Homo sapiens: one gene and its partner. The protein of the gene in region 1 purifies or fractionates together with the protein of each later gene. This does not show direct contact. Each region holds a gene or a part of one and is shown on either strand. Other genes may lie near its edges.

Region 1 (5,532 bases):
ACTTCCCATGTGAAAAATATAAAATTGAAAAGAGGCACACAGTATTAAATAAGTTGCCAAATCTAATTTACTGCTAATATTGTATTGGCAGTTGAGTAGTCCAGTTCAGATTGTAAAGGTGGCAATTCTTTTTCAGTATAAGCTACAGTTGGTAGCAGGAAGAACAATAGGCTGACCCCCATCAGTACTCATAATTGATTTACAAAATCTAAGTTTGCCAGTGAAATGTTGGCTGCATGTACAAAGACAAGAATAGGCACATAATTCTGATTTTCTTCTAGCTAGAGAGTCTTATGACAAATAGGATATTTAACAGCAATAAAATGTACTTACAAAGTACACTATCTTTCTGAGAAATTTACAAATGAGCTACACTTTCATTTTAGGAAGTTGAATACATTTTGGTGTCATGACATAACCAAGCCTTCTAGAATGTACTCCACTTTGTTGAGTCTATGCCTCTTTTACACCCTTCATAGCTGAAATCCTGTAACATTTACATTAAGAAAATGATACACAGTAAATACACATTGAGGCACATGTAACTGTGATCTCAGACTTCTAGAGTCATAAAGATCCATTTGCACATCTGCTGACAACAGAAAAATTGTAAGAGAAGATTTTTTTGGTAGATAACATGAAAATTCATAATTCAAAAATCTGAGAACCTTAAATAGCAGTGTTTTACCCCATGTTCACTGTTTTAGAAATATACTTGTTATAGAAAAATAGTGTAAATATACTATCCATGAAATAAACATTATTGTAGAATCTTTAATACTTCAAAATAAAAATTAAAACCACCTACCCACCTGTTTCCATACAAAGTTAGTGTTAGCATCGTAATGAAACTGGTCAGCATGAATTTTGAGATTCTTGTGAGAAAATGTCATAAAAACCTGAGACTGCCTGGTAAACCATGAGAAGGAGATTGAGTGACTTGTACAATGCTGTTTCAAAAGAAGGGGGGAAAACTCTACTAATTTTAATAAGGCCTTAGGATAATTACATACATTTCATACACAAATTTACAGAAGAATAAATCTATTTTTATGTAGTTTTATACCTTTGGTTATACTAATCAAGCCTTGGTGATATTTTATACTTTTGGTTATATTAAATGATAACATTAACCAGGCATGGTTTTAGCACAAACCATAACTATTGTGCTAATTAGGTAACAGTACATGGGTTGATGAGTGAACTGGAAAATACTCCACCTGCCCAAAGAAGGGAATTCCCTGTCGAAAGTGTGAGTCCACTTTCACAAATGAGAGTTTGGTTATGGTTCTTGTGATTTCACTGGACTGCCTTCCAGTCAATTCCACCACTGAAAAAAGAGAAAAAAATCTGTTATTTTTGGGAAGAATGATGTCTCTAAAATTCTATCACCTCCCCCCAACTTACAATTCATTATTTGGCTAAGAAAATCAATGCCTGTTGTGTTTTCTCTTATACCCATGTAGTACACAAACCTGTTCCTTCTTCTTGGATCTGGGCCTCAGTGTGAAGTTTCATTTCATACTCCTTCCTCTTCAGCTGGAAGACCTTGGTTTTTACTTGCTGATAGAAGCAGCCATGGCTGTTTAGCTAAGAAGGGAGAAAATAAAATACAAAAATATAATGCATATTATACTAAATAGATCAGTGGTCAGATAACCGGTGTGATTTTTGTGGGGGGACAACATCATGTAGGCATTTTCTATGACGAGGACACAATAAATATTCTCTAGCAACTAAATATTAAATTTCACAACAATATCTCATGTATAATTGACAGATGTATTCCTTGGTATCTGAAATTCCCTAGATATATTGCGATAGAAATGTCTTAAAATTTGAGGAGTAATTTTTTTTGTACAAAGGATGCATAATATTTATACATATTTATGGGGTACACGAGATATTTTGTTACATGCAGAGAATGTGTAATGATCACATCGCGGGATTTAGGGTGCCTACCAACTCAAGTATGTATCATTTCTATGTGTTGGAAATAGTTCAAGTCCTGTCCACTTGCTATTTTGAAATACACAGTACATCTGCTCTTGACCATTAGAACTCCTCATCAAAGTCTGGTTCCTCCTCCATAATATTCAGCTGTGGCTGGGAAGCGGCCTTCTATATGGGGACTGTGTTTGTCAACTCTCTGGCATCTTGGTGGGGCCATGTGATAGGTTCTTGTTCACAGAGAGAGCAGAACTGATGGCCTGGCCAGCTAAGGCAATTAAGAGGTGTATGGTTTTTTCCTTCCTTTGTAGAAGTGAATGCCCATGGAGGCTTTAGATGGCTCAGTGTCTATCGTTCTGAAACACTCACAATGGGCAATTACGAGAAATAAATAATTCCCATTGTGCTAAGTTCATGATTTTTTTTGAAAAATTACAATAGCCAACATGGAATTCTCTTCTAGATTGTTCTCTTCCTGCGTCAGAAAAATGCTGCAACTCACTGCTTTTCAACAATGCCTTTATCGCTATTCTCTAGAAAAAATAGTGTTCAACCTACCTGTCCACTGAATTTCTCACAGAAAGCCTGTGAATCTTCACCGTGGCAGTCGGAAGCGTCACTATACTTTCTGCAAATGCTCACAGTCACATGTCCAGGGACAGGCTTCCCATATGTGTATCTGTCATGAGAACATTCCCAAAGGAATCAGAGCAGACACTGAACCTCCCCATTTTCTAGCTATTTATATCTCCCCTTTAGCTACAGTATATTCCCTGTCTGTACTTCCCTCTGCTCTCTGCTGGGCTCACACAATATTGAAGACAAGAGTCACTAATGGCTCTTATAGAAATCTCCATTGCAACATGCTGAAATTTACATTCTTCTTTTATCATTTCTTTTTTTTCCTCGTTTTTTTTTAGTTTTATCTTAAAAAAGTCTTTCTTATTATAAAACTTAAACCCGTTCTTAAAAGAGAAACAATACCAGCAAGACGAAACAAACAAAACAAAACAGAACAAAAAAAACCCAAACGCCCTCAAGTCTACCTAGGAATACAAACTATTAGTACGATAGTGTCTCTTCTTCCATCATCCTCTCCCCATGTGCAGCCATCTCTATATCGAGTTTCACTTGTTTATTTTATTTTATTTTATTTTATTTTATTTTATTTTATTTTTGAGATGGAGTCTCGCTCTGTCGCCCAGGCTGGAGTGCAGTGGTGCGATCTTGGCTCACTGCAACCTCCACCTCCTGGGTTCATGCCATTCTCCTGCCTCAGCTTCCCAAGTAGCTGGGACTACAGGCGCTGGCCACCATGCCTGGCTAATTTTTTGTATTTTTTAGTAGAGACGGGGTTTCACCATGTTAGCCAGGATGGTCTTGATCTCCTGACCTCGTGATCTGCCCACCTCAGCCTCCCAAAGTGCTGGGATTACAGGCGTGAGCCACCACGCCGGGCCTGTTTACTTTTTTACAAAAGTGGGATTGTGTCGTAAATATGTCATAGACAATTGCTGGGTTTCCAAGTGCATTTGTCTCCTTTCCTATTTGAGAATGTCCTCTGTATGTCTATTTGCAAGATCACACCAGTTATGAGGAACCAGGAACTTGGCCATCACTGTGAGACAGAACTGGAGCAGGGGCCTAGCTGAATAGTAGGTGTATTACATGTGTGATCTTTGGACAGGACTATACCTGCTCTTCCTGCTACTGCTACTGTGTGCCACCATGGATGGGAACATAAGATCCAGGAAACAAGACTTTTCAAGGTTGGAACAGACTGTCTTGAGAAATCACGTTCAGTCTCTTCGTAAAAATGTCAGTGCAGACAGGTATGTAGACCCGCCTTAGGTGGACTAGTGAGTTAGATGAGATTTCAGTTGTATGCCTATCTCTACAAATTCTGAATCTAAGTGATTTTTCCAGTAAGCATGCAAGGTCAGGTAAATGATCTGTTGATGATTGAATTTCCCCTATAGCCATGTGTTAATTATCTCCCTAATATACGTTTGGTTATTTTTGGTTAAGGCAGAACCAATACCCTTCAACACTATCCACCCTTCCCATTTTGTGTGTGTGTGTGTGTGCAGTTTTGTCACTTTCAGAATCAATCCTATTAGCATAACCTCTCTAGAAACAGTTTCTTACCTCATGATAGAATAATACTGATAAGAACGTGAAAGAAAATAAAAATAGAAAAGCAACAGGAGAATAACATTCTACAGATGAGGATGCTGTCAAAGCACTTAAAATTTTTGTGTTGCCACTGCTCCCGGAGAGAGTAGTTAAAATATCCCAAATGGTGAGTCTCTTTTAAATAATCCCCCACAAAAGATTTTTAAAAAATGAACTCACAGGCCACACACTGATACATTCATCTCTTCTTCCAAGATGGTGATTATCTTTGGCACTGTTACTTGTACTTCAAACTTGGGAAGAACTGTTGATTGGTGATAAAGAAGGTTGGTGATTGGTTTTCAACTTTGGGGGAATTCCTATTTTCAGGTTCCCTGTAACAGTTCCCTAATAATATTTTAGGGCTCTGAAAAGGTAGCTCTGCTCTCCAATCTATTCTTATCTATCCTCCTCTCAAATGAAGATTTCAGTTGAGGGACTATGAGAGATCACTGTGTGCTTAATTAATTATGGAAAACTCCATTAAAACAAGAATGTTTTAATTTTGGGGGTTGGTATTAAATATTGCTACAGAAAATAACGAAGCTATGTGAAGTCCTATTCACAGATCACTGATGTCCTCATTGGACTTAGGTGTAATTAATTCTACTCCAAGCCCAATGTCACCCATGGGAAATGGAAAGACTCCAAATGAACTTAAATTCCAGGACCTAAGAGTTTAAATATGAAGAAAAATAATGCTTGATGACTTTTCATGATCCATACCAAATTCCTCCACGGTGAAAGGGTGCTCTGTCCTTCCACCTGATTTCTTCTGTACCACCACCTTGTAGGAGCCCTGGAAGGGCTCTGATGAGAGGGGAAAAGAAAATTGCTTGAGGCCACCCTCTAACTGGAAACTCTGCCATTGTGCGATGCGATTTCCTTTGGGATCCTATATGAGTAAATTAATTATAACTTACAAAAGCACCTGGAGCATTGGAGCTAATAAAAGATATCTATGGAAACCCTAAGTTATCTACAAAAAGGTCAAATGGGGTAGTAGTAAAGGGTGAGTAGAGGAGATGAGTTATAGCCATCTAGCTCTATGGGAGTTTGAAGGCTTCTCCTTTAATGACAAGTTTCTGAGATATTGTAAAAACCTCTGAAATAAGAACATTTTCCCTATATGTATTGCTTTCCTTTTAATATGGAATGTTTCATGTTGCTTACCTGAATGTATACTAGTGGAATCTGAAAGACAAAAGAAAAAAGAAGTTTATAATTATTTTCAAATATTCTTAAATCTCATTTATAAGCAAAGCAGCTAGTATTTGCTAGCATAACAGGGTGAGTATAGTAAAAAATAATTTAATTGTACATTTAAAAATAACTAAAAGTATAATTGGATTTGTTCGTAACACAAAGAATAAATGTTTGAGGGGATGGGTACTCCATTTATTGATA
Region 2 (2,730 bases), on another chromosome or scaffold:
TCTTACCTGTACTCTTTATCCTTCAGGCTTCCGTATCCATGATTATTTGTACTTTCAAGTGCTGAGTCCTGGGGACATTCGATACATCTTCACAGCCACACCTGCCAAGGACTTTGGTGGTATCTTTGTAAGTTAAGGGAGGCCCCTGATCTCTGATCCTCAACCTCCCCCTTCCCCTCACTGAGCTGCAGTGACCCTCTCATCCCACCTGAGTGCTGGGACAGGGAAGGGAGCAGAATCAGCTCTGCCTTCCATGAGCTGCAGCACAGAAAGGAAGCTCTTCCAGCTACTCCCCTGAGTATAATATAAACCTAGGCACCATGGAGGGACAAGTTGTCTTTTTAGGGGACATGAAGTGAAAAGCCAAGAGCACCAGCTTCCTCTGCCAGCTCTACCTGTGAACTATGTGACTTAAGGCACATCACTTCCTCTCTCTGGATCTACAACCAAGTCCCCTGCCTATCTCATAGAAGGGTAGGGTGGTGTAGGACAACCAGATAGGCCTTTGCGAGAATTAAGTAAAAATGTTTAAGTGTCTGGCGATACAGAAACCACTCCATGTTTCCTTCACACTTTATAAGGTGCCAATAAGATGGGATTGTCAGCCCAGTCCTAAAGCAGGTGTGTCTCATTACACTCTCACCTGTCCAAATGTTAAATGTTTTTCAGCACACAAGGTATGAGCAGATTCACCTTGTCCCCGCTGAACCTCCAGAGGCCTGCGGGGAACTCAGCAACGGTTTCTTCATCCAGGACCAGATTGCTCTGGTGGAGAGGGGGTAAGGAGTGGGCAGGCAGGACACGAGGAGTGGGCAGGCATACGGCAGATTCTGAGATTATTGGTAGTAGTGCTTTGAAAGAGCTGTTTTTGAAAATTTCATCTTTTTAAGCGTCTTTAAGAAATGTCTAGCCTGGGCAACATGGAGAAACCCTGTCTGTACAAAAAATACAAAAATTAGCTGGGCATGGTGGTGCACACCTGTGGTCCCAGCTACTCGAGGCTGAGGTGAGAGGATTGCTTGACCGCATGTTAAGGCTGCAGTGAGCCGAGATCACGTCACTGCACTCCAGCCTGGGCAACAGAGCAAAACCCAGTCTCCAAAAAAAAAGAAAAAGGAAAAAGAAATGTATTTAAATTATCCATGCTTTTAGCTATTTACTTATGAGCCTTTATAACAGATTCTTCATAGTCTGCCTTCTATACTCCCAGGGTGATGGTCTGGGGAAGGGGGAGCTAGGACCTGTCTTTCCTTTGGTCTTATCACCACCTCTTCCAGGGGCTGCTCCTTCCTCTCCAAGACTCGGGTGGTCCAGGAGCACGGCGGGCGGGCGGTGATCATCTCTGACAACGCAGTTGACAATGACAGCTTCTACGTGGAGATGATCCAGGACAGTACCCAGCGCACAGCTGACATCCCCGCCCTCTTCCTGCTCGGCCGAGACGGGTGAGGGCTCCTTGCCTCTGGCTTTATCAGCACCAGGCTGGGCGCCATGACTGGGTCAGGGGTAATCACCAGTCCCTTCTTGCAGGCCTCAACTTGGGGTGCTTCAGTTAGAGGGCAAAAAAAGATCTCGGGCTTTGGAACTCCCAGATTGATGGGGACAGTGGGGCATGATGGGGTACCAAGAAAGTGACCGTCACCACCTCTCTTCATGCCCTCCCAGCTACATGATCCGCCGCTCTCTGGAACAGCATGGGCTGCCATGGGCCATCATTTCCATCCCAGTCAATGTCACCAGCATCCCCACCTTTGAGCTGCTGCAACCGCCCTGGACCTTCTGGTAGAAGAGTTTGTCCCACATTCCAGCCATAAGTGACTCTGAGCTGGGAAGGGGAAACCCAGGAATTTTGCTACTTGGAATTTGGAGATAGCATCTGGGGACAAGTGGAGCCAGGTAGAGGAAAAGGGTTTGGGCGTTGCTAGGCTGAAAGGGAAGCCACACCACTGGCCTTCCCTTCCCCAGGGCCCCCAAGGGTGTCTCATGCTACAAGAAGAGGCAAGAGACAGGCCCCAGGGCTTCTGGCTAGAACCCGAAACAAAAGGAGCTGAAGGCAGGTGGCCTGAGAGCCATCTGTGACCTGTCACACTCACCTGGCTCCAGCCTCCCCTACCCAGGGTCTCTGCACAGTGACCTTCACAGCAGTTGTTGGAGTGGTTTAAAGAGCTGGTGTTTGGGGACTCAATAAACCCTCACTGACTTTTTAGCAATAAAGCTTCTCATCAGGGTTGCAACTGTGTCCTAGAATAAGAGCACACGGGTGGGCAGGACCTTCAAACTCACTCGTATCGTCCCATACTGTCGTTCTGAGGAAAGGAAACACCCACAGAGGACAGTGACTGGCCTAGGTCATTTGGGACCAGTGCTCAGACTGCTAGTCTTAGATCCCAGCACAGCTTCCTGCTAGGAGCCAAGGAAGCCCTGGGAAGCCAGAGTTCAGCCCCTCAGGAGAAGACTCATCTTAGAGCCTGGAACTGGGGGTCCAAACTGGACCTCAGGGCTAGGCATGGTGGCCCATGCCTGTAATCCCAGCACTTTGGGAGGCCGAGGTGGGAGGATCAGTTGAGGCCAAGAATTCAAGACCAGCCTTGGCAACAACATAGCAAGATCCCATCTCTACAGAAAAATTAAAAATTAGCTGGGTGTGGTGGTGTGAGCCTATAGTCCCAGCTACTCAGGAGGCGGAGGTGGGAGGATCACTTGGGCCCAGAAGTTCAAGGCTGTAGTGAG

The links. Proteins that work in one complex are often made in the same cells at the same time.
Region 2: the proteins of A2M (region 1) and PRADC1 purify together in Homo sapiens (co-immunoprecipitation; 3 studies listed by BioGRID and IntAct, with this or other methods). This does not show direct contact.

Annotation. Positions count from the first base shown.
Region 1 is NC_000012.12:9,105,016-9,110,547, forward strand, and holds part of A2M (alpha-2-macroglobulin isoform a precursor), read right to left. Parts: intron 5,320-5,532; coding exon 5,299-5,319; intron 5,021-5,298; coding exon 4,852-5,020; intron 4,391-4,851; coding exon 4,306-4,390; intron 2,630-4,305; coding exon 2,509-2,629; intron 1,591-2,508; coding exon 1,476-1,590; intron 1,331-1,475; coding exon 1,221-1,330; intron 1-1,220. UniProt on the Homo sapiens protein: Is able to inhibit all four classes of proteinases by a unique 'trapping' mechanism. This protein has a peptide stretch, called the 'bait region' which contains specific cleavage sites for different proteinases.
Region 2 is NC_000002.12:73,227,510-73,230,239, reverse strand, and holds the end of PRADC1 (protease-associated domain-containing protein 1 precursor), read left to right. Parts: intron 1-26; coding exon 27-127; intron 128-669; coding exon 670-779; intron 780-1,277; coding exon 1,278-1,445; intron 1,446-1,665; coding exon 1,666-1,786; 3' UTR 1,787-2,230; downstream 2,231-2,730. UniProt on the Homo sapiens protein: Plays a role in the modulation of physical activity and adiposity.